2 separate regions of the Homo sapiens genome follow, and region 1 is linked to region 2. The links come from fine-mapping of genetic effects on gene expression. A gene starts in region 2. The other region holds a variant in brackets. All regions are shown on one strand. Distances are from middle to middle.

Evidence for each region.
Region 1: its variant is fine-mapped to the expression of BNC2 in thyroid (GTEx, PIP above 0.99).

The regions. Positions count from the first base shown.
Region 1 is chr9:16,206,745-16,223,233 of GRCh38, forward strand. It overlaps LINC03041 (long intergenic non-protein coding RNA 3041), which reads right to left. Exons shown (of 4, transcript NR_171034.1): 2 at 9,028-9,155; 3 at 8,472-8,535. Among named protein-coding and RNA genes, the nearest start is that of LINC03041, 61 kb to the right of the region's middle. The variant A/G (reference allele first, on the strand shown) is at 6,250.
Region 2 is chr9:16,863,525-16,880,013 of GRCh38, forward strand. It overlaps BNC2 (basonuclin zinc finger protein 2), which reads right to left and starts at 7,146. Exons shown (of 7, transcript NM_017637.6): 1 at 7,122-7,146. The coding sequence starts at 7,124. RefSeq lists an enhancer at 3,910-5,109.

The sequences.
Region 1 (16,489 bases), 660 kb before region 2:
ACAACTGGTTATTTCAGTTGACAATTAACAGGAAATGATGCTAACAGCCCCAGGGTGGTCACTTTTCTGAGGGACTCTGCGTATTAAGTTTCAATTACTTAGAGTCTCCCATCTAAGTCCCCAAAAGGAAATGAACTGCTTCTATAGTTGTCACAGAAAACCAGTTACTTTTTTTTTTTTTTTTTTTTAATCTTTCCCAGTCTCTGTTTTGTCAGTCAAGTTTCAGGAAGTTAAACTAAGAGTTAAACCTAAGGTTCTTTATCTTTCCCAGTCTCTGTTTTGTCAGTCAAGTTTCAGGAAGTTAAACTAAGAGTTAAACCTAAGGTTCTCTGGGGTCTCATCTGTAAGAAACTCATCTATTTCTTCTACAATCCAAACTCCAAAGACAAAGTCAAAAATGAAAAGCATAAGAAGCAAATCATAATGCTGAAGAAAATAGTGTTTGTCTTTTTCCCTTCAATATTTAAATCTCATGTTATGGAGAATGCTGTCAGCAGAGAACCCAGCATTTCCTGCTCTGATGGTCTCCATGCTCTTTCCTTCTTTTCTGAAGACTGCTGCTTCAGGACCACGGAATAGGATGTGTTGGTTCCCAGGGCAATGTAGCAAACGGAGGTCCCGCCCAGACAGGCAGGATGTGCAGCAGTTTCTGCCGACCGCGGCCGTCGCAGCTGCTGTGGTGCCTTTCTGCTAAGACAGCGAGCAGTGTCTGTTTGAAGTCTGTTCTTTGGAAAGGAGACCCAAGAGAACTTGAGCTGGGCTTGTCTGGATATCAAAGTCCAGATTAAAAATTTATTCTAGTGTTTGAAAAATTCCTGGCCAAAACCTTCATATGGATTTAAAAAATACAAACTCCCTGCTTTCTTCACTGTCTCCGATTGAGGACGAGAGGATTTATTTCTAAAAAGAAAAAATGAAAGCGAGGCCGAATAGTTCCATAAAAGAGCTCAGGTCAGACGGCCTTTTAGCTAAATCTGTAAGAAAAGTAATATGTTAAACCACTTTGGGCAACTGGGAAGCACTTGTATTAGTTATCATTTGTGAATCTTTGTTTTTCCCCTTTCCTATTGCATGTCGGATCACCTGGCTCTTTTTGCTGGATGTAAAGGGTGAAGAAAGAGAAAGAGTTTCTATTCCGTATCCCATACTCCTACCCCATTAGACAGAAAAGTAGAGGAGAAAGCTTTGTTTAAAAGTTGTGATATTGGGAGGGAAAAAAAAGATTGCCAAGCAAGCAGATAATGTAATAGTAATTATGAAATTATTGATAAAAAGAACATAAAAATCATTAGGCCAAAACAGAAAAAAATTAAGGAAAGAGTGAACATTTAAGCAATAAAATTAAACCAAGGCCATTAACAAAATATACAGAAGAAGTAGAACTACCTGACATGGGACATTATTAGTGAAATGTGATTTTGGTTGTTGTTGTTGTTGTTATTGTTTTTGTTTGTTTGTTTGTTTGTTTGAGATGAAGTCTCTCTCCGTCACCCAGGCTGGAGTGCAATGGCATGATCTCTGCTCACTGCAACCTCTGCCTTCTGGACTCAAGCGATTGTCTTGCCTCAGCCTCCCAAGCAGCTGGGATTATAGGTGCCCACCACCACACCCAGCTAATTTTTTTTGCATTTTTAGTAGAGATGGGGTTTCACCATGTTGACCAGGCTGGTTTCAAACTCCTGACCTCAAATGATCCACCCACCTCGGCCTCGCAAAGTGCTGGGATTACAGGCGTGAGCCACCATGCCCAGCTGTGAAATGCTGAAATAGAAGTTGAGAATGAGAAATTAGCTCCAAGGGCAAAACAACTAGATGAAGGATCAGGATGAATATATCAAGTTTAGATTGAAAGCAAAGGGCTGAATAGAAGAAAGTGATAGAACCATGTCAACAGACAGAAGCAATGGCAACTATGAAGGCAGACAGCCCCAGAACTACAAAGACACAAAGCAGCCTGCAAAAATGAATGCTAAGCCTTAAATGAATTCATACAGATCCTCTGGTAAAGGGTTTTTGCTATTGTGGTTGTTTTGATAAACTTCATAATTTGAAGTATAACTAAGATACCTAGCATTAGTGTACAGTTTGATTAATTTTTCAGAGTGAACACACCCACGTGACCACCATTCGGACCTGGCCATGGAATAATGCCATTACTGTAAGGCTACCATCTTTACTCCCACATTCCAAGAGTGACCCCTCTTTGGACAGCCATCAGTATAGATTAGTTTTGTCTGTCATTGAAGGTCCATAGAGTCATACAATATTTTTTCATTTCTTCCTTCACTCAACATTATAATTTTTATCCATACTGTTGCACATAGTGGTAGTTTGTTTATTTTCAGTGCTATATAGTATTCCATTGTATATATGCCATAATGAACACCTTTCTCCTGTTGATTGATAGACATTTGTGTTGCTTCTAGGCTCTGGCTAGTCGAAATAGCACTGCTATGAATATTCTTGTGCGTGACTTTTGATGCCCTTATACACAGATCTCTTTGTGTATGTATCTAGGAGAATGATTGATTGCATCAGAGACTATGCGTACATTAGCTTCAGTAGGTACCACAAGAACAATTTTTCAAAGCATGACATCAGGTTCCATGCCTGCTAATGGCATGTAAGAATTCCTGTCGTCATTTCAGATTCTCACCAGTATTCAGCATTGTCAATTTATCTGAAATTTATATTCTAATAAGAAAGTGGTTAACATTGAATTGTGATTTTAAGTTTGCATACCTAATTTTATATATTTTCATAAGTTTGTTACAAATTTAGACATCTTCTTTTGTAAAGGGACTGTTCAATAATTTTTTGTCCATTTTTAATACATTATATGTCATCTTGTTGTTGTTGTTATATAAGAAATCTTTAAATATTCTAGATATATTTACCTTCTCCCACTCTATGAGTGGTATATGTATGTCTGTGTTTTCTTTACTTTTTTTCATGAGAAGTTGTTAATTTTAATGAGACCAATTTATCAACCTTTAGTTTTATCGTTAGTAAATTTTATGTATTGTTTTGGTTTATCTACACCAAGCTCATGAAGTTATTCTCATAGGTTATATTGTAGAAGCTTTATTGTTCAACCTTTTATACTTAGGCCTATGTTCCATCTGTAATGGACTTTTGTGTATGGTGTGAGATAGGGGGTCAAAGAATTTTTTTTCTTTTGGAAATCCAATTAACCCAGACATTTGTTTTCACACACTACATTGCAGTGGTGCCCGTGTTGTAAATTAGGTGATTTCTATGCAGCTCTGTTTCTGGACCCTCAAAACTCTGTTCCATGGGTCCATTTGTCTCTATTTACACTAGTATCACACTGCCTTAATTACTGTGGCTGTGTAAGTTTTGATATCTCTGGTAGTACAAGTCCTTCAGCTTTCTTCTTTTTCAATTTTGTCTTGACTATTTTTGACACTTTGTATTTCTACGTAAATTTTAGAATTAGCTTACCAATTTTAAGAAGGAAGGGAGAGAGGAAGGGAGAGTGCATGGGAGAGAGGAAGCAAGGGAAAAAGGAGGAAGGACAGAGAAAGAAAATCTGCTGGGATTTTGACTAGTATCGCATGGAAGCATAGGCCAATTTGAAGAGCGTTAACATTTTTACAACTATGGGTCTCCCAATCCAATTTACATGTTATATCTCCTCATTTATTTAAGTCTTTAAAAACTATTCTCTGCAATGTTCTGCATTGCTGTGCATTGGTCAGGTGCATATTTTGCTAAATTTATTCCTAACAAGGTGCTTAATTTTTTAAATACTATTATAAATGGCATCAAATTTAAAGTATTATTTTCTAATATTTGTTGCCAGTATACAAAAACATAGCTGATTTTTGTATGTTGACTTTATATTCATTAGTTTAGCTAAATTGCTGACTCATTCTAATAATTCACCTGTAGATTCTATGCATACAATCATGTCCACAGATACTATCAGGTTTGTATCTTTTCTAATCCTTAAATTTTGAAATTTCTTTTTCTTGTCTAAACTACTCTGGCTAGAACCTCCAGTACACTGTTACATAGAAATGGTAAGAGTGAACATCCTCGTCTTGTTGCTGGTCTCCAGCAGAAGTGTTCGTATTTCATTATTAAGTACAGACTTTTATAGATGAAAGGGTTCCCTTCTAGTCCTAATTTGATGCCAGTTATATTTTCAGTGATGAACAAGTTCTGAGTTTTAACAAATGCTTTTTATTCATCTTTTGAGGTGTTCATATGGTTTTTCTTTATTTTGTTTCTGTGGTGAATTATATTGATTGATTTTCTAGTGTTAAACCAACCTTGCATTTTTAAAAGAAACTTTATTTTGTCATGATATCTGATCCTTTTAAAATATCTCTAGATTTGGTTTGCCACTAGTTTGCTCAAGAGTTTCATATCTATATTACAATGAAGGATTGGCCTATAATTTTCTTCTCCTGGAATGTCCTTGACAAGTTTCAGTATCAAAGTAATGCTGGCCTCATAAAATGAGTAGCAAAGTATTCCTTTTTCCAGTCCCTGGAAGAATTTGTGTAACACTCATTTTTTTTTTTCCTCATATGTTTGAAATAACTCCTCACTCAAATGTCTGGGCCTCAAGATTCCTTTGTAGGAATCTATTTACATTATAGATTCAATTTCTCTAGCAAATATGTGAATATTCAAATTATCCATTTTTTCTTATGTCAATTTTTGCATTTTTCTAGGCGTGTGTCCATTTCACCTGCATGTTCAAAGCCACTGACATAAAATTCTTCATAATATCATCTTAATATTTTGTTTAATGTCTTTAGTGTGTGTGTTAGTAGTTTATGCTTTTGATTTATCTAGGTCAGTCTCTCCAGGGATCTATTTATTAGGCTTTCCCTGAAAATATGGACAAATACATAGAAATTCATTATTCAATAAAAAGTTAAGAGAATGCCAACTGAAAGATATGTAGTGTGTTGGTAGTTAAAAGCAGGAGAAATTGTAATTGATTGGGAAGCTCACAGGGGACTTAAAGTGGGAAATAATTGAGATAAACCTTAAAGGAAAGGTAGAATGTTGACAGTATTAATAGAAAAGGCATTATTGGCATAAGAGAAATTTGGATAATGTGCAGCAGGAAATTGAGAAAAGATGGGAAGGTCTGGACAATCAAGAGATTTGAGTCATAGACAATGAGAAGACACCGAATTCATATTTTCAGTATTTTCATATGTTGACTATTTGGAAAATATAAGGAACGATGTTGAGGAAAGACACTAAGTTGTCCAGCCTGGTGACTGGGAGAAGAAAAAGAAGGCAAGAGGAAGAGCGTTTCAGGGTTAGAAATGTTTGACTTTGTAGGTCCCAGTCAAAAGCTGCAGGCTGGAGCCAAGACAGTGGAGGAGCTGTCAAAACAAGCAACAGCATGAGGATGTGATCAGGCTGTGTCCAGAACCATGGGCTTTAGTCCCTTTACAGCATAAGAGGAGGAAGGAGTCAGTGAGCATAGACCAGAGAGGGGAGCCTGGAGCCACAGAAGCCAAGAAAGCAGGCTTTCTAGTAGGGCAGAGTTCATTGTATCAGACTCTACAACTCAACCGAGGGATGAGGACCCAGAAAGCCACTGGACTCAGCATGCGGGAAGTCACTGTGGGCCTTTGTGGCATATATTGAGATAGTAAATGTCTGGTGTCAATGGGAAGAGAAAGAAGAGAGGGCTTCATTCTAAGGGGCATGCTTTTCCAAGCTGTGCAACCCACTCTGTCTTCCATTCACAATTATTTATAGGTTGCCTGCCTATTCCAGTCACAAAGCTAGGTAGTGATCAAAGTAGACATGACCCCTCTCCTATTGAGCTCATATCTAATGAGGAGCTAAACATCAAATAAATATAAAGAAATGATTAAAAACCATGATTAATGCTTGGGGAGAAAGAAGAGGGAATTATGAGAGAGAATAAAAGGAGGAGGCCGATTTAGATTGCAGCGGGGATTGGGGAACGCCTGACCATGGATTCACATGTAGAGGCATGAAAGAAAGAGTTCTGACAGCATTGAAATAACAAGATGGGCTGTTCGAGTGTCTCCTTCAGGGGCCAAGTAAATTCTGGGGTTCTAGAACTTGCCGGGCATCATGACCCCACAACTTCATCTAATTCCCAAACCTCCCTCCCCATCACATGCCTGTCTTCAGGAGACGGAGAATCAGTCAGAAAGCAGAAACCACCACAAGTCAAATTAAAGGAGAAAATGTGTAGCTCAAGGCAAAAATCTTCTTCCA[A/G]AGAACACAAGGAAGATGAATCTACCATTGTTGAGTTATAATGTTGGGGGATTATGAAGGCTAATATGATTAATTGTAATTATCATTTATAATGTATACTTATAATGATATTGCTTCTAGAACATCTTCATTATCTTTCACTTTTGAAATGCTGCTTGGGCTTCCCAACAGATTTCAGAAGGGGCTTTTATTGGGCCCAGATCATCAATCCAAACCTTTTAAGGTAAGGGTGTTGCTACCTCAGAAGCCAAAGAGACATTTCCTGTCCTGGAAAGCACTAAATAGTCATTAGCTTCTTCAATCTGTTTACCAGCCCGCCTGTCACTGGGGTTCGACAGGCCTCAAAATTAACACTCTACTCTATTTGTCCATCACAGGGCTGTCCCACAGACTGCGGTTCTCAAGTGGCCTCAGGCAAGCCTTATTTCATGCCAGAGCTAAGTTCCTGGGGAATAACATGTCTAAATTGAATTTGGTTTATTCAGGTCCGTTTGAAATGAAGCCTTGTTTAAAAGAAAGCCATACTCAATTTTATTTTTCAAGCAAATCTATCTTCATCGTCTGACCTAATTGGTCTCAGAGACCCTAATTTGGAGAGTTTTCATGCCCTTCGTTTATCATTGTGGCAACGTCAAAATCAGGATGGTTTCTTTCAACCACCTATGCTGCCTTTGTAAGAGCAAGGATGCTCCAAGCAACACTGGTCTCCCCAAGTGTCAGCGAGGCCCCTCTCTCCATAATCTCTGGCCACCCTCTGTCTGTCTCAGTTTCTTCTGACTTCACTGTAGGGCTCCCCAGGCCTCCTCAGTCTTGTCTGTCTCACCTGGACACCTGCTCAGTGGGAACCCATGTCCTTGACCATCTCGGCTGGCCCATGCACCTTGGCCTGTTTGTATTCAGACCTTTTGGAATCCACAGGGACAACTCACCAGTGACCAGGGGCAGAGCAGCTGTATCAACTCAGCTTGGGGAAGCTCAAGTATCCAGTGATCTTGGCTGTGTGGAGTTTGAAATGAAGCCCAGTGTATTACTCACGGCAAAACCAGGGGCCAGCCAAGTTAAATAGAGCACTCCCCGAAACATTCACGGACTGATTAGAGAAGGAAGCTCTGATTTGAAGAGAGGCTATTTTGTGTCTGCTTTTATTTTTTTAAACAACATGCTTTCCATTAGTGAGATGGGAAAAGTAGAAACCTGAAAGAATGATATTTATTAATTTAAAAAGTTCAGGTCTGTGACCATATGCCATGTCCCTTTGACTTCATAATAATGGCCACACTTTGAGGTCTTCCTTTGTCCAGAAACTGTGGTAAGCACTTTGTAAGCACTTTCTCATGTAATCTTTATGAAAACTCTGTGATGTAGGTACCGTTCTTACTCCTGTTTGCAGATGGGCAAGCTGAGGTCCAGAGAGAGTAAGCACACACTATTTTTAAGTGGTAGAGCTAAAATTTGAACCCTGGCAGTCTGCCTTCCTATTCTTGCCCGCTCTTAAACAAATGCAAGTACCCAGGAGCTTTCATGAAGAGAACCCCTCAAAAGAAAGCTGACATTACCCCACGGGTTCATAAGTGGGTGCAAGTTTTTTTTTTTTTTTTTTTTGAAAGATCTCTGAAGGCCAGGAATTCAATAAGGCGGAACACACCCCACTGAACCAAGCAGGGCTTGAGTTTGCAGATTATTTTCCGACCAGAAGGAGTTCATTGACTTGGAGGAAGAAAGGAGATCATTTAATGGACTTACAGAAAATATTTTTGTTTTCGCTTTTTTTCTCTCGCAGAACAGTTCAAATCTTCCAGGCCACGGTTCATTCCCTCTGTTGGCCTTTCTACCTGGGATTGTTATGAGAGGCCTGAAGCTAAGTCCCCGTGTCCCCCACTGGCCAAGCCTGCCCTCTCGTTTGGTCAGCGCACCGACACTGCCTTTGCAGCTGCATATCCACGTAGATATGTTTATTGGAGCACTGAGAATCTCACTTCTCAAAAAGCCCCGGGAATTAGATTGTTTTCCACACTGAAAGTTTTCATTTGAAAAATAACCCTCTTTGTTTAACTAATGAAAAGGAGGGGCTGCTGCTCGCTTCTCAGGCTGGGTAAGAATTCCATGGGCAGTAATTCTGTTTCTCAGTGGAAAATGTTTCGGTTTCTTAATGTTGTTTTGCAGACTGGTCCCTGCCCGGCCCTTGCTCCCAGGACCACACATACACACATGTGCACACTCACCCATGCACAGTGCAGCATTTTCCACCCTTCCCTGTTGGGGATGGTTGCATCCTCTTTCCAACACCTGCAGAACAAAAACGAGGTGGGTCAGTGGCTGTCACCCAGCCAGAGACATCCCTGCGTGTACGGGAACAGAACGCTTTCCCTGGCCACGCTTTCAACCCCAGAGGCTGGGTGGGCCACAGAAGAGGAAATTGGACTCCAAACTTCTCTTGTTTCTGTGCATCTCCATGTCAAGCAATTCTCTCACACTATGGAGGGGGTGTTCTGTAACATTCCCTCCTCATTAGGTTCGTATGAAATGGAGATAAACACAGTGCTGTCATCATTGGACTTAGAGTGTGGCCAGCATGGTGCAGAGTGGTCTGGACCGCACAAAACAAATCAAAATATGGCCCCAGGAGACAACTTGCTGGTGGTAGAAAAAGCATGGATGCTTGCATTTCGACAGACCTGCACCGTCACCTAAACAGCTCAGCCCACGTGCAAGCAACTGCTGAACTACTCTGAGCCTTTTGCATCCACAGCTACGGACAAGAGAAGTTATGTAACTCACAGGCAGGTGCAGTGCCCTGGGTGGTGTTTCTCACATAGTAGATGTTCAAGGAACACCTATCTTCTTCCCTCTCCTTTGTTCTCTGAAAACGAGCCATCTCGCGTCTAGCTGGGGGCCAAGCCCCATTCCTACAAAACAAGTTACAAACAAACAAGTGAGTGCAGCCACAGCAGAGCCGAGTCCAGAGCAGGGTGTCCTCACCATCCCCAAGGTCCACTGCAGAGTTAATGTGTACTGTCAAAGGGGTGCTGTGTGCTGTAGGGCTGGGGGATCCAACACCAGCGGGAACTGTTAGGTCTGTTATCCAGAAATGTGAAGTATTCCTTCTCTCTATGGTCTTTGCGTGGGACAGATATATCTGGCCTGAGTATGTGGCCTAAACACAGTTGTGCTTAAAGCAGGCAAAAGGACTGGGCAAAATAACCACCATGTGAAAATAGACATTCAGGAGATCCGCACGCATTAAATGTAAAGAGAAGATTAGCTGTTAGCATGGAGCAAATGAACAGCTTTAAAAGTAGACAGGGATAGTATGAAACAAGGCTGTCAGTCAGACTGCTTTTAGTTTTCAGTGATGAAAACCTTCTTCTATATTACCTCTAGCAAATAAATAAATCAGTAATTTATTGGTTCATATAACCAAGACATTCTGGGTTAGAACTCCAGGTGGGGCTGAATACACAAAGTCATATGATGCTGGTAGGGCTAGCTGCTTGGCTGGCTCTCTTTCTCTCTCCATATCCATATTTTGTCTAATAGCCTAATTCTCTACTCTTTCGAATTACCATCCTACTCTCAACTTGGTAGCTCCAATAGAGAAATTCTATCTATCTCTCAGCACAGGCATATCAAAACCAGGGAGGATTCTAAGGGACCCAACCGTGAACATATTACTGGCTAGAGGATAAGGCACTATACTTTCTCTGCTACAGAAAGTGCAGATCTAGACAGATCTGTTTAAGTGACACCCTCTCTAAGTGACAGTGCAGGTCCAAGTCTCCACTCAACCCAATGTTTTCGTGTCTACTCCGTTCTAGCTACGATCTAGCCACTGGGAACCCAGCCGTGGACAGGGGAGAGGATGCCCAGCTCCCAGGCAGCTTATGGTCTTGTGAAGAGCCAACATTTTAGTTGAATCCTGCTACTTCCTGCTACTCTGCATCAAGAACCAAACAGAAGTACAGAGTCCTCTCCGTTCACAAAAAAAGCCAATTTCTTTTTATAAAATTAACAGAAAGTTACCAAATACAGTTCTGTACACTGAAAGTTACCACATGTAAAGCAAGCATACATATTGCCTCGCATTCCAGCCAGCAGGGCAGTCTCAGTGTGGAACCCCCCTGCTGAATGGCACCTCTGGAAGGTATGCAGCAGGCAGTACTGCCAACCAGAAATGGCCGGGGCTTTCAGGAGACATCACTGCTTTGGAGTTTCTTGCAGAAAACTTTCACATTCATCTCACACACAAGGATTGCAAACTGCTTCCTTTTGTGTGTGTGTGTGTGTGTGTGTGTGTGTGTATGTTCTCTGATCAAAGGAAAGTGGGATACTCTGTAATACTCTGTAATCAATGATATGAAATGGAATTACACCCTGAGTACACTGTAATGGGCATTGTGGATTTAGGTTAGGGGAGAAAAGTTGGCCTCCCAAAATTTCTGTATTTGGAGGGACCAGTAGACTTGTGTTTTTTGATGACTTGGATGTGTGATGGTGTGGGAGGACAGTCTCATCAAATATAATTTACTCAGTATTTATTGAGTGCCTACTATGTACCAATCCTCTGGTTATATAAAAACAAATAATACAGCATTTCTTCTTCATGGATAGAGTGGCTAAGTCGGGGACCTGCACATAAACCAAGCACACTACAGTGGGTAAGTGTTCTAAGGGTCTGTGCACAGCACATTACACTATGACATGTTAAGGCATGCAGTAATCTCTTAGTGCCTATGGTGGGGATGAAAGATTTTCTCCTCATCTCTGAATGGCTGGGTGGAACCCCAGCATGGAGCCTCGGCTGGAAACTAGAGGATTCTGGACAAAGACGAGGACAGGCTCTAATGTCAGGCCTTGGAACCATCTGAGGTCACCACCTGTTAAGCACGCTTAACCTCTGTGGACCCAAGGTGGTGTGTGACAAGCATCCCCAGGGCTTGCTGGACAACCATTACTTTTTATTACGTTTCTTACTGTCAGGTGCTCCGAAATCCACATGGACTGCTCTTATGATTTCAGGTTATCCCAAAAGAGAAACTCAAGAATCAGTGATGAGCACAGCCGGGAGTGAGCCGGCTGCCTATCTCAAAAGGGCACATCACCATAATCACAGATATACCATGAGCATATGCAGAAAGAATGTACCGAGGGAGTGTGTGTCAGGAGCGGCCAAGAGGATACATAAACCAGGTGCCCCTCCCAGCATCCCTCTCCCCCACCAAAGCAGTGCCTTTAAAATATGTGATAGGTGCCCACATTGTCTCTCTGGCCCCGCAGAATGCCCCTCCCCCAACAGCCACCTTTGCTGCTCTTCGTCTAAATCCACCCGGGGTCTCCCCTGGGCTGGCTGTTGCCTTCATATTTCATGCGGAATGCGCAGCTTCCCAGGAGCCGGACGCATGCCCTGCATTCTGATGCATCGGCCGGCTCTGACACCAGCCAGCTCCAGAGCATGCCTAATGAGGAGGCTGACACCGAGGCAGAAGAGCCAGGCCGGGCTGTGGACGGCCCGCTGCAAACAGGGAGTGGGGTGACAGGAAGGCACCAAGGGTGAACCCGGGGGAAAGATGGCAGTTGCCTTTTTAAGACACGACTCTAGCATCAGATACTACAAACATGGGCCAATTTAAACCACACCAGGAATGAATCACAGCCTCGAATAAAGAGCAATTTGGATCAAGGAACTTCCTTGGGGAAAGCATAAAACTAAAAGAGGAAGGAGAAGCGGCAAACACTAAGAGAAGGCAGAAGCTTTGAAATCACTCATATTTCAGTAGGCAGAGTGGTTGCCCATTTTAGTTTTTCTTCCAGTGTAGAGCTCCTTCAAGTTTCCTTAGAGACCACTTCATTATCTAAAAGATGCTGCTGAACAGAAGTTTTTCCTTTCCTGAAAGCCTCATCTACCTTAATTTCACACATTATTCCTCGTTTTGACTGGCTCTATCAGGATAAATTGACCCTTGCTTCCCATGGTATTTATGGCATTTATCCTTGGGGTAGAGCCAGTACCGACAATCACCATCCCAAAGCTACGAGGATGCGATGGTAACATGCTCATCAGCCATCTACTTAACACTTTGCCCAAGCCTAGTCCCGTTTCATCATCCCAGCAACTTGATGAGTTAGGTGCAGATGAGAAAACCAAGAATGACAGAAGTTTATCCAAGGCCATACATCAGACCAACGGTCTCAAACATGGGACCGCCTTCAGTACTTTCCAATGAGCTGGGTACCCACTAAAAAAAAAAAAAAAAAAAATCAAAATCTACCATTCCACTTGGTTCTATGTGGAATGATGTGGCAAATCATGATTTCTAATCATTTAGTGTAGATAAAATATTAGCAAATAAAACTTTACACTGACATAGGAAAGATTGTTATTTACATCATGGACTCTAACAAAGAAATTTCCTTTAAAGCTTTAATTTTGTCATTTGTGTTTCTGTGTGTGTGTCTGTGTAATAAGCCTTTGGTTTTGGCTCTGCAGATGCTAATTTCGTAATGAAATTCATAGTTCTTTATTGAAATGCTTACCACATGTCTCACAGTTTTCATTAATTGTCTCATGTCATCCTCCTGACACTGTGATCCAGGTGATATTGTCCCACTTTGGAGATGAGGAAACTCTTGTTCAGACAAGTTACATAGATGGGCCAAGACCACAAAGCTCCTAAGTGGCAGGACAGGAACCTGCCTGGCTTAAAGCTACAGATACTGCTCATAGTAAGCCACCCTGTTCTGCAGCCATGTGGTATCCAACATATTTAATATCATTCAATGCCCTGTGTTTCCCAGCATCATTGTTCTTTTTGTACTTCCTGCCCATTGGGTTCTTGAAATATTTTCCCTGTTAATTCTTGCTCTTTTCCAGAGGAACTGAATATCAGGATATCAAAAAGATATCTGCATTCCAGTGTTCACTGCAGCATTATTCACAACAGCCAAGACATGGAAGCAACCTGAATGTCCATCAACAAATGAATAAAGAAAATGTGGTATATACATATAATGAAATACTACTCAGCCTTGAAAAGAAGGAAATCCTGCCTTCTTTTTTTTTTTTTTTTTTTTTTTTGAGATGGAGCCTTGCTCTGTCACCCAGGCTGGAGTGCAGTGACGCGATCTCAGCTCACTGCAACCTCCACCTCCTGGGTTCAAGCAATTCTCCTGTCTCAGCCTCCCGAGTTGTTGGGACTACAGGCGCCCACCACACCTGGCTAATTTTTGTATTTTTAGTAGAGACGAGGTTTCACCATGTTGGCCAGGCTGGTCTTAAACTCCTGACCTCATGATCTGCCTGCCTCGGCCTCCCAAAGTGCTGAGATTACAGGCATGAGCCACTGCACCCAGCCCCTGCCCTTTTTGATAGCATGGATGAACCTGGAGTCGGTTATGCTAAGTCAAAAAAAGCCCAACACTGAAGGACAAATACTACATGGTCTCACTTATGTTAGGAATCTAAAATGGTCAAACTCAAGCAGAAAGTAGAATGGTGGTTGCCAGGTTCAGAGGGAGGGAAAAATGGGGAGAAGTTAGACAAAGGGCATGAAGTTGTGTGATATGCATAAGTCCAGGAGAGCTGCTACACAGTGTAGTCCCTAGAACTAACAATATTATACTGTATACCTAAAATTTTGCTAAGAGGGTAGATCTTAGGTTAAGAGTAAAAGAAAACTTGCACTTTTTGGCCGGGCTCAGTGGCTCATGCCTGTAATCCCAAAACTTTGGGAGGCTGAAGTAGGCGGATTACTGAGGTCAGGAGTTTCAGACCAGCCTGGCCAATGTGGTGAAACCCCTTCTCTACTAAAAATACAAAAATTAGCCGGGCATGGTGGTGCATGCCTGTAATCCCAGTTACTCGGGAGGCTGACTCAGGAGAATTGCTTGAGCCCAGGAGGCAGAGGTTGCAGTGAGCTGAGATCGTGCCACTGCACTCCAGCCTGGCCAACAGAGTGAGACTATCTCAAAAAAACAAAACAAACAAACAAACAAACAAAAACTTGCACTTTTTCTTGTGTAGAATTACATTTTACTGGTTCTTTTTTAACGCTCGTTTAGATTCTGTCCTTTCTCAAAACAAAACAATTCCTAATTTAAAATCTTCAGCTAATTTTTTGTTTCTGAATACTTTTGGAGTTAGAAGCATAGAATTTTACAATGGAAGGAAATCTTGGAGATTGTGCATCCCCCGCTTGCGGGAATTTTCCCTATAATAGCTCCAGAAACTGGTCATCTCACCATCTCCACTTACACATCCTCAATACTACAAAGCACACTACACCAAAAGGCAGCTCAGCCCACTCTCAGACAGTCTGAATTGTTAGAATGCTCTTCCTTGTGCTTTCTTCAACATACAAATTTGGGGATATAAGGGGGGAAAATTCAAACCATAACAGTCTCTTGTCTGCAAATCAGTGCTTTAGACACATGAATAAGTCACTTGTGTGATCCCTGACGCTTCTCTTTTTCTGGTTTAACAACCTCCAACTTTTCGCCAGACTCCTCTGTCCTGGGAGTCTATTCTGAACGCACTCTTCTGTCAGTGCCTGAAAGGGTGGCACCCTGCCAGCTGGGCTCGGAGGACCCTACTTCCCCATGTCAGCTCCAGTTGAGTTCACACTCTCAGCTGCCTAGGTGTGCAGAGCTAGATTTATATTGATCACAGACTCTGCTAATTCTCCCAGGTCCCGATCACATTGATGATTCTTAAACCTGGATTCCCACATCCAGTACTATGCTATTTGATTCTCTTTGTAGAATATCGACAAAACAACCCTGGCCAGAAAGAGAGATCCTTTCAGTACTTTGCTGAAAACCTCTTTTCTGAGTTTGGGGCTGTACCACATATTTTAGGGTCTTTCCACTTCTCACTGCTGCACCTATTCTAGTCTTCACATCAAATCCAACAAAGACAGGAAGATAGGTGAAGTGGTTTAAAGCCACCGTATTTGCTAATCCTGAAACTCCTGAAACTGAAATATGCAAAGAGCTCAAGTTTGGCAAACTCAGTTTTTCAGAAACATGCCATGTTAATTCCCCATTGTCCTGTTGTCTTGCAGATACTGAGGCTTTTTCTCTTAAGATTTGTTCCCTTTTCTTGCAAAACATTGAACTTCCCAGTTCTATGTTTTCCCTGGATTATTTCCAGGGAAATAATGCTTCCCTATTCTGGAAATCAGTCCCACATGTCTTCTTTTAATACTTCTGATAAATCCCCTGATAGTGATTCATATTTTTCAGTCCTTTAACAAGTTCACTTCTTAAGCAATTGTTTTGATCAGTTTCTAATTTGGGGGCAGGGAAGGGCAATTCTTTCAAATCTACTGATCTGTACTCTCCAAGAGCACCCTTTCTCTTTAGGCTTCCTTTATACATATCAAAGAACTAAGGCGGGGCCATAAAGCAATCAGGAGGTGGAAAGAGGTTAAAACAAGTAGCAGGCTTACAAGAAAAAAAATAGTCGACTCTGTTTTTCAAAATTCTTTTTGTGGAATATGAGATAGATAGGAGAACTACAGTCCAGAGTGGAAGGTCTTGGGGACCAGGGAGGAAAAAAGTAGCGTGGAAGTGGGATTACAGAGGGACCTGAATTGCCATGGCATGTGAAAAAGATAACTCTACCAACCCAAGCAACATCCAGGTCATGAATTCAGGTCTGAATTCTTCCAGGACAAGTTCTGGAATTTCTAGAAAGCAGGGATGTCCTAATATATTTTATACTCAGAGCAGGTCATTATTTGATACCATCCCCTATATCACATTAATTTTTAGGAATCAGTGTGTAGCATTCAATTATAAAATTTTTATTTGTTATTTAGTTTTAAAACGAACAATTAGCAACTTAAAAAAGGAGAAATATCAACCTTAAAGATACTAGTCAAAGTCAGCAAAATATTTCATATATGTACTAAAACTTATATTTATTAAACAACAACATTACATCTCAAAGTTTGCACTGTTTCACTGTCTTGAATTTCAAACCCAAAAACTCCAAGAGGTCACATAAAATGGCAACACTGATAGAACCCAAGTTTTGTTTTTTCATCCTTACAATCACATACCATCGCTTAAAAAAAAAAAAATCTGTTGTTAAGGCTGGCAAGATAGCCCAATAGGAATACCTCCGGTCTACAGCACCCAGCGAGGCTGACACAGAAGGCAGGTGATTTCTGCATTTCCAACTGAGGTACCCGGTTCATCTCATTGGGACTGGTTGGACACTGGGTGCAGTCCACGGAGGGCA
Region 2 (16,489 bases):
TCCCTACTAAAAATACAAAAATTAGCCAAGCGCAGTGGCGCACGCTTGTAGTCCCAGCTAATCGGGAGGCTGAGGCAGGAGAATCTCTTGAACCCAGGAGATGGAGGTTGCAGTGAGCCAAAATCACGCCACTGCACTCTAGTTTGGGCGACAGAGCGAGATTCCGTTTCAAAAAAAACCTTAACAGAGAAAGTACAACTGTTAAAAAGCCTTGCCTAAAAGAGGTAAGGTCAAGAAAAATTAAAAATAACTTTACAGGGATTTGGCAATAAGTCATTAACATATTTGAAAAGTTATTGGAGAACCCCAAAAGAGTTTGGAAAACTGACAAAATCTGTTGAAATCAGGAGACAAAAATATTTTATTTACCCTCAGTAAAAACGGTTCTCCTAGTTTAAAAAAGAAAAAAAGACAAACTTTTGGGTAAAGAGGGACAAATGTATTATAATGTACCATTTTCTATTCAAGTGTTTTCAGAATTCTTAAAAAGGTAATTCTCTTCATCTCTAAGATTTTAAAATAATATTTTCCAATACAAAATTTACAAATACTTATTTTATTTATGATTTGAAAATGACCACATTATCATCCTTTTTCTCCTCTGCATCTAGCCAATTAAGCAAATGTATTTCTAAAGAACCAGGCTATGCTAGAGGAAAATCAAAGGAGGAAAAGAGCAAAGGAAAATTAATAGGCTACATTATTTTTACATAGATTTTAAAACATATATATGACATCTATGAAATATCTTTTAATTATTCTCTAGATATGGAAAAAGATAAACTGCTAATAGATCCATTCATATATATGATTTAGTCAGTACTAAAAATAGTTATGTTAGTCACCAGAAATACTGCTTTTGTCCTCTGAAAGATTTGAAAAAAGAAAATAAGACTTTCCATTGCTGTCAAATGTATTCAATTTTCCCCTCAAATGAAGTTTGGATGAAAACAATGTGACTGACAAGCCCCGCACAGGCAAATCTTGGCAACCCTCAACTCTGTCTATCTCCTTGGCCTGTTAAGCAAAATTCCTTCACAAACTGTTGGTCTTTGCAATAACTCCTACAAAGCTCATTACTGCCAGCGTCGGCCTATCCCCCATGTTGTGCATTTATCCCTGGGATGCATATCAACATGTGGCACATGTCCTTGACATGCACAGAAGAGCTGCACCCCAGGACAGCAGCATGCACGACAATAGTCTCGACGCTTACTTCTTTACGGTTGCTGGGATGTAACCGAGAAATCTAATAACTGTGACAGTGGGGCCTTTCGGTTTTTCCTTGCCTTTCCAGACAGTGAAGCTGCACAGACACTAATGAAAGGTTAAATGAATAGGAATAGTTGACAAGAGGTACAATAAAGAAGGAGCTTGGTAATCCACAGACACTGAGCAGAGATCCTTGGCTCAAGCAGAGAAAGGACAGCACATCGTCGAGTCACAATATTTAAAACAGCTTGCTATACACAGAGGCTTTTGTGTCTGGGTACACGTCTGGCTTTGGACTGAAAAAAAAAAAAAAAAAGACACTGAAAAGGAATTTCAGCATGGGGCACTTTGGCAAATGTAAGGTCATTATAAGAGAAAAATGTTTTGTGTAGGTTGTTACATCTTTGTAATAAACACAAAAAAGCAGGGACTATGAACTCATGAACCACAAGTTCCAAGACAATACTGTACATTTTGACAACTATTAAATACTGTATCTAGAAGGCTGGCTTGATGCTATTCCCACTGGTAAGATACATACACAGTGAGTCATTTAGGAGTTTCACATTCTGCCTTCCTTATGGAAGAATTCCTGATACTCATCTTATTAGAGTTTTATAGTCAAGTTCTAGTCTTTAGTGAACGTAATTTGTTACAAATACAACCAAAACTCTCAAAGCCACCTTCTACTCATTGAAAAACTTCACAGCAGTTACTAGCAATTTGTGAAGTACCAGGCAAACTTTTTGTAATTGTAAGTGATTGCAACTGTGAAATGGCCTCAGCTAGAATTCTTAATTATCGAACCTATTATTTTTTGGTGCCCTTCTCACTATACCTCAAGGGAAGGTTGTATTCCTTAGGAAGTTTATTTTAAATTATAACAGCAAAACAATTTAAATCACCAAGAGAAAAATACTCTAGAATGTCAAAGAGAAAATAGAGCAAAAAGAACAAAACTGATATTGTTATGTACGGATATTTTTAAAGGAAAAAAGTTATGACGATAGCAAAAACTTAAAGAATGATATATCTGTAATATCATTCTTACGCATATTGAGTTAGAATATAGGTTCTTACGCATTGAGTTAGAATATGGGTTCGTAACAAATGGTAAAAGCATACTGAGAATATATTTCAAAACAAGGGAGGCTCTTTGAACAGCCAAATTAAATTATAGCTGAACTCTTGAGTGTACTGAGGGTTCTAATAAGCAACAAATAAAGACTTTTATTGGCTAGCAACATAATGAGAGCTACTGTGCAAAAGATTTTAAGAAGGACAAATCTGGGTAGTTTATCTCACTGGATTATATTATTTACTTAAATGATAAATATGTTTGTCTAAAGTAATGCTCCTAAAAACTAGTATATAAATATTAAAGTGCAATTATGATCAATGACTCTTTAACATAACTGTATCACAAATGTTAATGGAAAGTGGTAAATATGAAATTAAATGACAATTATTGAATGTAATATCATTTAAATCCTATTTCTTTAACTTATTTTTTGATCCATAATAAGTCAGGTTTATAAATAGTTTAACATTTATGCTTATAACAGGAAGCATTTATTTTAAAGAAAATTTCTCTCTGGAATACAGAAGTTGTATGTAGAACTACTCCAAAACCATCATTTACAGAAAAGGGGTTGTCCTTCATAAACTAAAAGAAGTTAACCCACTTCTCGGTGATTTCGTAGGAAGCTACTTTTAATAGAACTCTGAAGACTGGCCTCCTAAAACGAGAGTAACTCCCTCAGTTGACAAAAACTACAAACAGTAGTTAGTCAAACCAAAACATTTAAAATATAGTATCTGGTTGCATTTTGCCTGATCTTCAAATCACCTGAAAGGCAAAAGCCTAGAAAGCTTAGCTGACGCCTTGACTGTTCTTGTAGAAAGTTCTTTTGCTTCTGTCACTTTTAAAAAAAAAAAAAAAAAAAAAACCATAATAGCACCTCCCAGCCTCAACACTGAGCCAGTATTCATTACCTACTCTTTTTGTGCAACATTCTGATGGCCAGAGTGTTTTTTAAACCTTAAGTATATCTAATAAAATCATGAGGCTCCCTCTAGCTCTTCAGAGGGGATTTTACTAACCAATGATACTATATAATTCCCATCCAACAGGAAAGATTTGAGGAGGCTACCTCCCCTTCCACAAGAAATGTTTTCCACTCTGTTTCTTGTAAGGATGTAGATGGTAAATGAGACCATCTGCTGAGTAAATCAGAAAGCGTTGCTCCTTATATATTTATCAAGTTAAGAATCTATAAACTGCTTCCAACCTAAGCTTTATGTACAGAATTCTATAGTGAAACTTTAATCAGATTAAACCATACGACATAAATTTACCCATCCTGTCTAAAATTAATTTTAATGTCAAAAAACAACAACATGTATGAACATCCACAGAAATTCAAACTTGTGGTCTGGTCTCAGTTTTAAAAATCTACATTTAAATGCAGAATCTCAAAAATTCAGGAAAAAAACACTTCATGAACTGTATCTGTGGGGTTTATATAAAACAAAGATGCTAATAGTATAGAAAACATTTTCATGTACCATAGTATTTATACACAATACTAGTATAATGACTTTTTTATTGTTTAATCTTACCTGCAATTTAGTATTGGATATTTGGGGATCGTAGGTTGTTTAGAAGACTATAAATAATACAGTTGAAGTATGCCATCTTACAATAACCATAAAAGCCACATTGTCAACTGGCAAATCATCTCAAACAAGTGAATGTGAACAGTACTAAATTGAACTCCTCATATTCACTAAGGCCATCTTTCAAATACTTAAGGAATATTTAAAACCGTGCTGAACCCTTAACTGTAAAATTAAAAGTAAAGGAAACCACTAACTTCAAGTCATCATCTATTTTGGACTCCCTTAATATAAGAAATATTCCCAGGAACAACAACAAAAAGAATAGCTCCCTCTACCCCCCCACCCCCACCCCTTTTTGAGCCAGTGTCCAATTTCTTCTTTTCTGAACAGCTGTATTATCCAACTTAAGTTGCTCTGCTAATTTCAGTCCCACAAGGACTAACTTGGAAGGCAAAAAAATACAAGAAAAGATCAATTTGCTGGGAAAGATCAAATGAGAAAACTGTGGGGACAGCACCAGGTCAGCGTGTGGAGAACTAAGCAGACCTGTTCTTCATTAACTGCGGCTCTCTGGGGATGTCACACACTACCTGTCCGTGGGCTTTATTGAACCGCCTAACCCGCCTCTCTGTTCCATTCTTCTGGGCCCAAGTGAATCATATCCTGCTGCTGACAAGTTAGCAGGGGACTGCGGCTGCAACATGAAAGTACTTTTCTTTCTTGTCTAAATCAGGCAGATTTTTGAAAAGACGACACAGCATTGACTCGTGACATGGCAAGATGAAACGAGAGGTCTGGGCCGGTCTTGGAGCTGTGCAGATAAAAGTAATCAAATGACACTCCTGGAATGCAAATTGGCATTCTTGACTGCAGCAATTGCACAACCATGAAACATCCCTGACAGCAAGCAAGATTAGGACAAAATGTTATGTAAAGCACTGAACTCAAGAACTCTCACTTGAAAATTCAAACTGTAACACTTACATTTTAATATAGCAATAGTCAGCTCTGCTTTTGTCTGCTTCTTTTTGTAATCACATATCTCTATCTGACAGATATCTTACATCTCAAATAGAAGAAAAAATCAGGTAGTAGGAATGTACTGCTATTAACATTTTCCTAATATTAATTGTAAAATATAATGCACAGTTTATTCTTATTCAAAGTCTTACATGCAAACACCACCCAACTTAATATTCTCAAGAGGAAAAAAAGTTTCAGACCTTTCTCAAAAGATACTCAAAACAAAGTTCAGGTTCAAGCTCGTTATTACTTCCCTCAGGTAAAGATACTCCTGTACTTTGGTAAAGTGATTAGCAATCTGGACTTTTAATACAGCGCACTCTGGGAACTAAGAACTTCATTAAGACTGAACAGTTTACATGAAACGGCTACAAATATAAAACACAGATACTCTCTAAAGGCTCACAAGGGATTGTGTGTGTGTGTGTGTTTGTCCAAAAAGTAAATGTTCTGTTAACTTGTACAAGGTCTCACTACTAGGGTACATCTTCAGATCAGACACACTAAGTAACGTGCCAGAAATAAATTCCTCCCATTTAAAGCATGTATGCGTGTGGACAGTAACACGTGAAATTGCAGAATACAAAGCAGTGGAAGGCAGACAGGCTTAGCCACAGTTCAAAGTCATTAGGATATAGGAATACATGTGTAGACAAATAGTTAACATAGGCTAGGGTAAAGGGAAGAAAAATAATACCTGCCACCGGCTTTTACAGTGTTCTTGTGTAAAACGCCCGTTAGAAGAAAAACTCTCAAGCTCTAAACAGATATATTTAATATTGTTGTGATGTCTCACTTAAACACGGCTTTCAACAATTCCAAGTGTCCACGAAGTATATAAAAATAAAACAGGCCACTTTTTGCCACTTTAATCCTGGGTACACAGGATTATTTTATGATGTCTTTTGTACGTCAGTTTTACAACAGCTTGACTCTAGGGTAAATGGGAACCATCATAAATCGCACGCTGCTTTCAAAACCACTTTAATTTCTGTCAGCGTTACTGTAACCACAGTCCTGGGCTCTTGCTTTTGTGTGTGTGTGTGTGTGTACGCGCCCCTGCATTTGACAGTCCCATCTCCTACACTCCAGTTGTGACTTTGATCACTGAAACAAGAGATGTCACATTAGGGAGCAGGGAAGAGGAAAAAATGCCAACCCGCTATCTCACCTGTATTCTCATATGTTCCCTCTATATACGGAATACACCATGTCAGATCCCCAAGTGGGGGTAACAATAGCGACGCTGGGAGGAAGCAAACTAAAAAGAAGGGAGTGGTCAAGCCCCATTTCTAACAAATCACTTCCCCGAAAGCGGACAGAGCGGCTCATCACCAGGCGAACTAATTGCACGCTTCCTCGCTGCAAAGAAGTCGCTTCTCGTAGAGGGGCTGTGCTGGAGTCTCGCTTGGCAAAGCCAGCCCATCTCCTCCACCACTTGCACTTGGAACTTTTTTTCAACCTTAAACTCACTTCACAGGAGATTTCACCTAGGGTTTTTCAGCATATATAATTTTTTATTCTGCTCCCTCCCCAGGCCCCAAATCCCACCCTCCAGTCAACGTGCAAGTAAAACAAATCGGCTCCTATAGAATTGCACTTCGAAAAGAGCCGTCTCTGCAAGGTTGATTTTCCTGCCCTGCGTTCTGCACCTTCTCCGTAAAGCCTGCGGGAGCATTTCCTCCCATCTCCATTTACCACGGGAAGATTCCGAATGTGAAGACAAGGGGAGAGGAAGAGTCAACGTGCCGGGCCCGGGCGGCTGCGCCCCAGCGCACCCGGCACCCACGCCCAGCCGCCGGTCCCTCACTCGGCGGCAAGTTGTAAAAGTTCCCGTAGGTCCCAGCCGCCTTCCTCTCTTCCCCGAGCTCCTGCCAGCGCTCCATTCATCCCCCACTCCCCTCCACCTCGTCCCCCCAGCCCGTCCCCAACGCCCTGGAGCCTCCCCTAGCCAGCCGCTCACCTTCGCGCGGAAGCCGCGAGCGGGGCCGACCTTGAGAAGCCCCCTCTCACGTGCACCCTCCCACCTAGAGCTCGCCTCAGAAACTTGGGGCCAAGTTTAGGGGAGGCCACTGGGAGCGCAGCGGGGATCAGGTCGGACCGGGGTTCTGGTCCCCGGCCCGCCCTCCTCAGCGCCCCTTGCCCCTCACGCCGCGGGCCGGAGGGCGGACACGGCCCCCGGGCGGCCCCGGTGGCGCTCGGGCGCGGGGGTCATTTCTGAGGAAGTCTAGAATAAAAGAGGAAGGAGGGTGGAAACTTCTTACCATCTCGGCATGCTGGTTGTCAAGTGCAGCCCCCGCCTCTTGGTCTCCTCTTAGCGGCCGCGCCTGGACCAGCCCCTCGGCCGCCGCTGGCTCCCTCCGTCTCGGCCTTTCTCTCCCTCCCCCTCCGAGTTCCTCCGGGCCTCCGCTCTCGCCGCCTCCGCCTCCCCGCCCGCCCGCGCGCGCCCTCGCCGCGGCCCCTCTGCGCTCAGGTGACTGATTTACACTCGCGCCGGGGTCGCGCTCGCGCCCCGAGTCCCAGCCGGCACGGTTCCCCGGCTCCTCCTCGGGACAAAAAAAAAAAAAAAGGGAACGGCTTGTCCCGGGAGGGGGCTGCCCTGCTCGCGGGAGGCGGGGGACCGGCGGGCGAGGTGACCTCGGCGGCCGTGCAAGCCCCACAAGTTTTTCCTCTCTCTGCAGAATTGTCGTGACTACAATGTTGCTTCCCTTTTGCAAAATAAAAGTCGGTCGTTGTGTTGTTTGTCCTCAGAGGTCCAGGGGCTTGGGGAAGGAGGATGTATGTTTCTCCCTCCCCCCACCGCCCCGTGACTTCTTTGGGGGCTTGTTTGTTGTTTGGGTTGTTCTTGCTCTCTCTTTCTGGGGATGGAAAAAACAACTTTGTGGGGATGGAAAAACAACCCTGGCGCCCCCCCCCCCCCCCGGGGAGCTGCGGGCGTGGAGGTAGAGGTGGCCGCTAGCGCCCAGCTGTCACACACACACAAAAAAAAATTGCGGGGCGGGGGTGGGGAGCGGAGCAAGGAGAGGAGGCTGCGAAACGCCGAGGAAAGGGCGCGAACTTTATTCCGACTGCAGCAAACCGCGGCAGCTCTTTCCTTTTCGGGCACTCGGGCGTCTCTGTCCCCTTTGACCAGTTCCTCCTCCCCAGCCCCGCACGCCCCCTCCTCCCCTGCCCCTTCCCCAGCGTCCCAGCCGCGGCCGACCCGGCTCCCCGCGACCCTCTCAGCCCAGCTCCTCCGCGCGCCGCTGGGGAGAAGGCGAGTGAGGCGGAGGAAAACCCAGCGGACAGAAACCTGGGACGCGAACGTGCTGGGAGAAAAGGCCAAAAGTTGCGCGCAGCTGGGGGAAAAAAGTTTTTCTGGTGGCGGAGCGTTTTGTGCCGGCCCAGACGCCGGCTTGCGGCGAGGGCTTCCTTCCCTTTCCCGTGGTCTGGGCCGCGGGCCTCGGGCTGGAGAGGAAGGAGGCTGTCGCGCCCGCGGGGGAAAGAACAGTCACATCTGTGGGTGACACTCAGCCGACCCAAGTCACCCTGCCCTGGAGACTCAGAAACGCCGACTACAGCCTAAGCGCGCACACGCCTGCAGCTGAACGATATTTCTTAAATACAGGCAAAACACACTCCCCGGCCGCAAGAATGGGGCGGGGGTGGGGGGGGAGCTTAATCATCATCATCTAACTAACGTACACTTTGTGCCAAAAACATCTCCGAGTTATGCAGATTTATCATAACTACAGCAAACTTTCTGGTTATCTAACATGGGAGGAAGGCATAGGTTTCAAGCATACTCCCTGAGCACTAAGAAATCAGAGAATCGGCGAAGACTTGGCAGAACAGCAGGTATGGTTACCGGTTCCTAGTGAAAAGTGAGAATCATCCCTTCTTCCCTTCTCTCTTCCTCAAACGGAGAGAGAGAGAGAGAGAGACTACTTAATTGCATTCAGAGGACAGAATTAAATTCCTTTGAAAATATGTAGCCTTGGAATTACATGGTTTTATTTTCTTTGCAGAGTCCGGTCTTAGTTTAATATAAATTTTCACAGTAACTGATTTTTTTAAATTTTTCGGGAGCCGCTGATGAGAGTCCCAAGTAGCCACAGCTGTCTTGAAAATGTGATTAGGTGGCCGGGCGCGGTGGCTCACGCCTATAATCCAACTTTGGGAGGCCGAGGCGGACGGATCGCCTGAGGTCAGGAGTTCGAGACCGGCCTGACCAACATGGTGAAACCCCATCTCTACTAAAAATACAAAAATTAGCCAACTGTGGTGGCGGGCGCCTGTAATCCCAGCTACTCAGGAGGCTGAGGCAGGAGAATTGCTTGAACCCGGGAGATGGAGGTTGCAGTGAGCCGAGATCGTGCCATTGCACTCCAGCCTGGGCGACAGAGGGAGACTCCATCTGCAAAAAAAAAAAAAAAGAAAGAAAATGGGATTAGGCTTATTATTCACGTGGATCCAGCTTTTTAACACGCACTTGCAGTTCCCTATACTGATTGGGTCCAAATTCCTGACTGTTTCCTGGCCCTTTCAAAGATTTCTGCATTCGTGGATTCTGTGCATCATTTTGTTGTGGAAAAATGTGTGGTAAACACTTCTCGCATATTATTTATCGTAAATACCTTAGAGTTCTGGGGACAGGTTGCATCTGCAGGTTTCCAATGAAAGACAAGATTACTTCTCTCACTACAGCATAAATCAAAGTATAGACTAGATCTCCCAACGACCATCTATATATATATATATTTAAATGTGTGTTATCTAAGAAGGCTCATCTTTAAATGATTTGATTAAGGTGTAGAGCATGTTCCCTTATTCTCTAAACATAACTAACATCATCCTGTAGTTTGCAGAAACTGATTACACAAGGGATAATGATGACCAAATGTGCATTTTGAAAAATTGAGGATCATCACAAGAATTTTCCAGAAATGGGCCAAGTTCCAGTATGTTTTTCTTGCATCATGGAGAGATGAGAAAAGCTAGTTGCTAATTTCAGAATCATTACCTATACAAATCCATTCACACACTTACCGCTTTGGACAAGTGACAGATCAGCAATTGCCAAACAATTGTATTCACACAGTGCATTTTTGGCTGCGCACCTACACTGACCAACATGCAGAAGTTACTCCACATCAAGCGACCTGTAATTTACATTCCCCTGATTGGTTCCACATCTGTCTGTTTTTGACGTTAGCATAACAAACAATTTATGTGAGGCAAGATGCGTCTGTTTGGGATCTCATGCCTTTCTGGAGAGTCATCATGATAAAAATGGGGCATGTGTTAGGCTGAAGAGCAGCACTTGGAGAAGGTGGAAGAATTTACAGGAGGAAGCAAAGCCTAGCATTTAAGAGGATTCCATAGTCTCATTTCATCTAGCGGTCTGTATGGCAATTGGAATAAAACCTTAAGTCCTTTTTGTATCCTGCAAGACCTGAATTATCTAAACCTGCCTGACTTTTTCGACTGTTTTATACCATTTGTTCATTACCATGGTGGACTACACTCAAGTCACATTGGCTTCCTTTCTGTTCCTCTAACTTGCAAAGCTCCTTCCTGCTCTTTGTCCCTGCTGTTCTACCTGGAGTGTTCTCCCAAGTTTTCCAATGATTCCTTCTTATCATTTATATCTCAGCTCTAATAGCAATTCTGCAGACTCTAGTTTAAATAGCCCTTGGCCCACCACTCAAAACACCCCTCATACTTCCTGTTATTACTTATTGTTGTATCCCTTTTCTATCCCTTATCAATATCTGAAATTGTCTTCTTAGTTTATATATTTATTATTTTTCTTCAACTAAAATGGAAGCTCCATAAGGGAAACAACTGTGCTGCAGGTCCTTGAATAACATCGTTTCATTCAATGTCGTTTCATTCAACGTCCTTTTGTTACAAGGCTGAGAAAAAAAAAAAAAAACTGATTCCAGCCAGGGCCACTGTATGTGTGGCATTTGCACATTCTCCCCATTGTCTGCATGGGTCTTCTCTGGATACTCCAGTTTCCTCCCACATCCCAAAGATATGCCCCTTGGGTTCATTGGAGTATCCACATGGTCCCAGTGTGAGTGATTGTGAGTGTGTGTGAGTGTGCCCTGCAGGGACTGATGGCCTGTCCAGGGTTGGTTCCTGCCTTGCACCCTGAGCTGTCTAGATTGGCTCCAGCCACCTGCACCTCAGAACTGGAATAGCTGGGTAAATATTTTAATTATCTAGCTGGGCATGGTGGCTCACACCTGTAATCCCAGCACTTTGGGAGGCCAAGGCAGGCAGATCACTTGAGGTCAAGAGTTTGAGACCAGCCTAGCCAACATGGTGAAACCCCGTCTCTACTAAAAATACAAAAAAATTAGCCGGGCATGGTGGTGTGCGCCTGCAATCCCAGCTACTGGAAGGCTGAGGCAGAAGAACTGCTTGAACCCGGGAGGTGGAGGTTGCAGTGAGCCAAGATCGCACCACTACACTCCAGCCCTGGGCAACAAAGCCAGACTCCGTCTTGAAAAAAAAAAAAAAACTTAATTATCCTAATTTTATTAATCTTTAAGTGTATGTATAGCTCACATTTATTTCAATGTTTCAATATTACAAGTATTTGGGGGTGTTTATTTAGAAGTTTGGTGATGTTTTGTGACCAGAAATAACCTGCAGGATGCTTGTTTATAGCAGCCTATGGTAAAATGCGTTTTGCTTATTGTCGTTTTGCTTAAAGTCACAGTTTCCAAGAACCTAAGCATGACACCGTTAAGTGAGGACTTTGTTCACTTACATAGCCTCAGCCCATAAAACAATGCCAGGCACAAAATAAACTCTTTTAAGTATTACTTGAAGTAATGAAGAAATGTCAAGAGGATTACACTGCATTGATCTGAAGACCTTAGGGCCAAACAAGTTCAGTGTAAGAATATGCGGGGGGGGGAAAGCTTTTTCTTTTGGAGAATGTAGGAAACACTGTTGACTTCCTACGCCAGCCATCCTCAAAGTATGGTCTCGGGACCCCTAAGGATCACCAAGACCCTTTTAGGAGGTCCATGAAGTCAAAACTATTTTTATTACAATACTGGGAAATTATTTGCTTTTCTTACATTCTCTCCTGTGTGTACAGTGGAGTTTTCCAATGACACTGTAACAGGTGGTATCACAACAGACTGAATGCAGAACCAGATACGAGAACCCACCTGTCTTAATCAGCTGTTAAAGAAATGTGCCAAAAATGTAAATCAGTGCACTCCTCTTCTCGCTTTTTTTCTTTTTGTGATGGAATCTCTCTGTGTCGCTCAGGCTGGAGTTCAGTGGCGCAATCTCGGCTCACTGCAACCTCCGCCTCCCAGGTTCAAACAATTCTTCTGCCTCACCCTCCCGAGTAGCTGGAACTACAGGTGCGTGCCACATCCGGCTAGTTTTTGTATTTTTAGTAGAGACGGGGTTTCATCATTTTGGCCAGGCTAGTCTCAAACTCCTGACCTCAAATGATCCACCCACCTCGGCCTCTCAAAGTGGAATTACAGGCGTGGGCCACCGCACCGATCCTGTTTTTGTTTTTCATTTTAAAATGTGAGTATATATTCATTTCCTGTAGCTGCCATTGTGTCCGGAATTCGTGGATTCTTACTCTGACTTCAAGAATGAAGCCGCGGACCCTCACGGTGAGTGTTACGGTTCTTAAAGATGGCGTGTCTGGAGTTTGTTGCTTTTGACGTTCAGATGTGTTTGGCGTTTCTTCCTTCTGGTGGGTTCATGGTCTTGCTGGCTCAGGAGTGCAGCTGCAGACCTTCGCGGTGAGTGTTACAACTCTTAAGGCAGGGCCTCTGGAGTTGCTTGTTCCTCCCAGGGGGTTCGTGGTCTCACTGGCTTCAGGAGTGAAGCTGCACACCTTCGCAGTGAGTGTTATAGCTCATAAAGGCAGTGTGGACCCAAAGAGTCAGCAGCAGCAAGATTTATTGCAAAGAACAAAGCTTCCACAGGGTGGAAGGGGACCCAAACCGGTTGCCCCTGCTGGCTCGGGCAGCCTGCTTTTATTCTCTTATCTGGCCCCACCCACATCCTGCTGATTGGTCCATTTTACAGAGAGCTGATTGGTCTGTTTTACAGAGAGCTGATTGGTCTGTTTTGACAGGGTGCTGATTGGTGCAGTTACAATCCTTGAGCTAGACACAAAAGTTCTCCACCTCCCCACTAGATTAGCTAGATACAGAGTGTCAATTGGTGTATTGACAAACCCTGAGCTAGACACAGAGTGCTGATTGGTGCATTTACAAACTTTGAGCTACATACAGCGTGCCAATTGGTGCATTCACAATCCCTTAGCTAGACATAAAGGTTCTCCAAGTCCCCACCAGATTAACTAGATACACAGTGCCGATTGGTGCATTCACAAACCCTGAGCTAAACACAGGGTGCTGATTGGTGTGTTTACAAACTTTGAGCTAGATACAGAGTGCTGATTGGTGTATTTACAATCCCTTAGCTATACTTAAAGGTTCTCCAAGTCCCCACCAGATTAACTAGATACAGAGTGCTGATTGGTGCACTCACAAACGCTGAGCTAGACACAAGGTGCTGATTGGTGTGTTTACAAAACTTGAGTTAGATACAAAGTGCTGATTGGTGTATTTACAATCCCTTACCTAGACATAAAGACTCTCCAAGTCCCCACCAGACTCAGGAGCCCAGCTGGCTTCACCCATTGGATCCCGCACTGGGCTGCAGGTGGAGCTGCCTGCCAGTCCCGCACCCTGCGGGACTGGGCTCCATGGAGCTGGGAGTGGTGCTCGTCAGGGAGGCTCCGGCTGCACAGGAGCCCATTGGAGGGGCGGGGTGGGCTCAGGCATGGCAGGCTGCAAGTCCCAAGCTCTGCCCGGCTAGGAGGCAGCTAAGGCCCCTAGAGAAATCGAGAAGGAGCACAGCAGCTGCTGGCCCAGGTGCTAAGCCCCTCACTGTCCGGGGCTTGCTGGCCTGCTGGCCGATCCAATTGCGGGCCCGCTGAGACCACACCCACCCAGAACTCGTGCTGGCCCACAAGCGCCACGCGCAGCCCTGGGTTCCCACCTGCACCTCTCCCTCCACACCTCCCGGCAAGCTGAGGGAGCCGGCTCCTGCCTTGGCCATACCAGAAAGGGGCTCCCACGGTGCAGCGGTGGGCCGAAGGGCTCCTCAAGCACAGCCAGAGTGGGCGCCAAGGCCTAGGAAGCGCAGAGAGGGAGTGTGGGCTGCGAGGGCTGCCAGCACGCTGTCACCTCTCACCGTGACAAATTACCACAGATTAAGTGGATTAAACAACACAAATTCATTATAATTTTAGAGGTCAGAAATCTGAAATAGGTTTCACTAAACTAAAACATGTTTGTGAGCCTGTGTTTCTTTTTGGAGTCCCTAGGGGAGAATCTATTTCCTTATTTCTTACAGATTCTAAAGGTCACCCCCAATGCTTGGCTTATGGCCCCCTTCCATCTTCAAAGCCTGTAATAACCAGACATGTCTTTCTCATGCCATACCACTGTGACACTGAGCCTTCTTCCTCCCTCTTTCAATTATAAGTACATGAGTGATTACACTGGGTCTATCTAGATGATGCAGGATAATCTCCCCATCTCAAGATCGTTAATTTAATCATATCTGCATATTCACAGGTTTCAGGGATTAGGATATGAACCATCATTAAGGGTCATTATTCTGTCTACCACAGTATAGTAACAAGTGATGGGTTTAATATTGTTATTTTAAATGAATTAATAACAAATTTTTCTCATAAAATAAACATCAGTAGCTATTGATGTTTATCAACAAAAGCTCTAGGTGGCGTGGTGGCTCACGCATGTAGTCCCAGCACTTTGGGAGGCGGAGGCTGGCAAAGCACCTGAAATCAGGAGTTCGATACCAGCCTGACCAACATGGGGAAACCCTGTGTCTGCTAAAACTACAAAATTAGCTGGGCGTGGTGCTGCATGCCTGTAATCCCAGCTACTCAGGAGGCTGAGGCAGGAGAATCGCTTGAACCCATGAGGCGGAGGTTGCAGTGAGCCGAGACTGTGCCATTGCACTCCAGTCTGGGCAACAAGAGCGAAACTCTGTCTCAAAAAAAAAAAAAAAAAGCTCTTTGAATTCTTCAATAATTTTTAAGACGTCATGAGATCGTGGCTGGGCGTGGTGGCTCACGCCTGTAATCCCAGCACTTTGGGAGCCTGAGGTGGGTGGATTGCCTGAGGCCCGGAATTCAAGACTAGCCTGGCCAGCATGGCAAAACCCCATCTCTACTAAAAATACAAAAATTAGCCGGGCGTGGTGGCGGGCACCCTACTGTAATCCCAGCTATTCGGGAGGCTAAGACAGGAAAATCCCTCGAACCCAGGAGGCAGAGGTTGCAGTGACCCGGGATGACGCCACTGCACTCCAGCCTGGGCGACAGAGCAAGACTCCGTCTCAAAAAAAAAAAAAAAACCAAAGAGATCGTTAGAGAATGGCTGGTGTACACAACAGTTAGTGTCCCTTCCATACCTCAGGTTAAACTAGATTGTTCTAAACCCATTATGGTGGCCCTCTTCCCCCTTGCTGTCATTGGTTTAAGGATGAGCATGTTAGTTCTAGCCAATGAAGGATGAGGAAGTCATTGGAGGGGTGTCAGGGAAAGATTATGCATTAAAACTAAAAAAACCAAAATGGCAAGAAATAGATTGTCCCTTTTCTGCTCTGGATGTTAGTATATGAGACTGTGGTACTTCAAAGCAGCTGCATCCACCTTGTGACCAAAAGGGACCCCACATACCTGGAATGATAGAGTGGGAAGGTGGTAAGCCCCTGAGCTCTTGTTGATGTTACTGACTTACTGAATTAACTAACCCCAGATGGCGTGAAACTTCTTGTTATGTGATATAATCAATCCCCTTATCATTTAGTCTATTTTGAGGTTGCATTTTATTAATTGCAGCTTGAAGCTTTCTAAATTACAGAGAAATGACATGTCTATTTACAGTTTCCATGTAGGAATTCCCTCCTGTCATTTCCTATAAAATTTACATATTTTTTTCCAAATTCTGAGAAAAATCTATGAAGAAATCAGTAAAACGGGAAAAGTATTATCATTTATCATTCCCCTGTGAGAATTAAAAGTTAACAATCAACAGAGACAGTACTAGTTAGCATGAACTCAACAGCAGGAAATGCTGACACAAAGTGGAGTTAAGGTGACATTTTCAGAAGTGGTTACCATCTAATCAGTTAGTTTTATTTGTAGTTGTGGCCACATAAGTGTGTGTTCCTGGCCCCCATCTGCTCCTGTTGATGAGTCATTCTTGCAAATTAAGTAAATGTAAGTTTATTGCATAAAATATTATTTACAAATCCTATGAGTTGTCTTTCAAGAAATAACATGTTTTAGAAACAAAGTAAGTCCTTACATAGACAATTTCAACACACGATTTTGTGTAGTGCTCTTAACTTTTCTAGGAGATCCTGAATGTTACGTTATTCAAATACTACCCAATATATTCACAATGGACTACAGTTCTTGGTAAATAAAAAGAAAAAATATATAAATGTTATGGAAAAAAATATGAATTTTAAAAAGCAATTCAATCTCAGTAGCAAAACAAAAATAAGAGCAGACAAAATATTGTCATCACTAAAAGAGAAAATGAGTTTA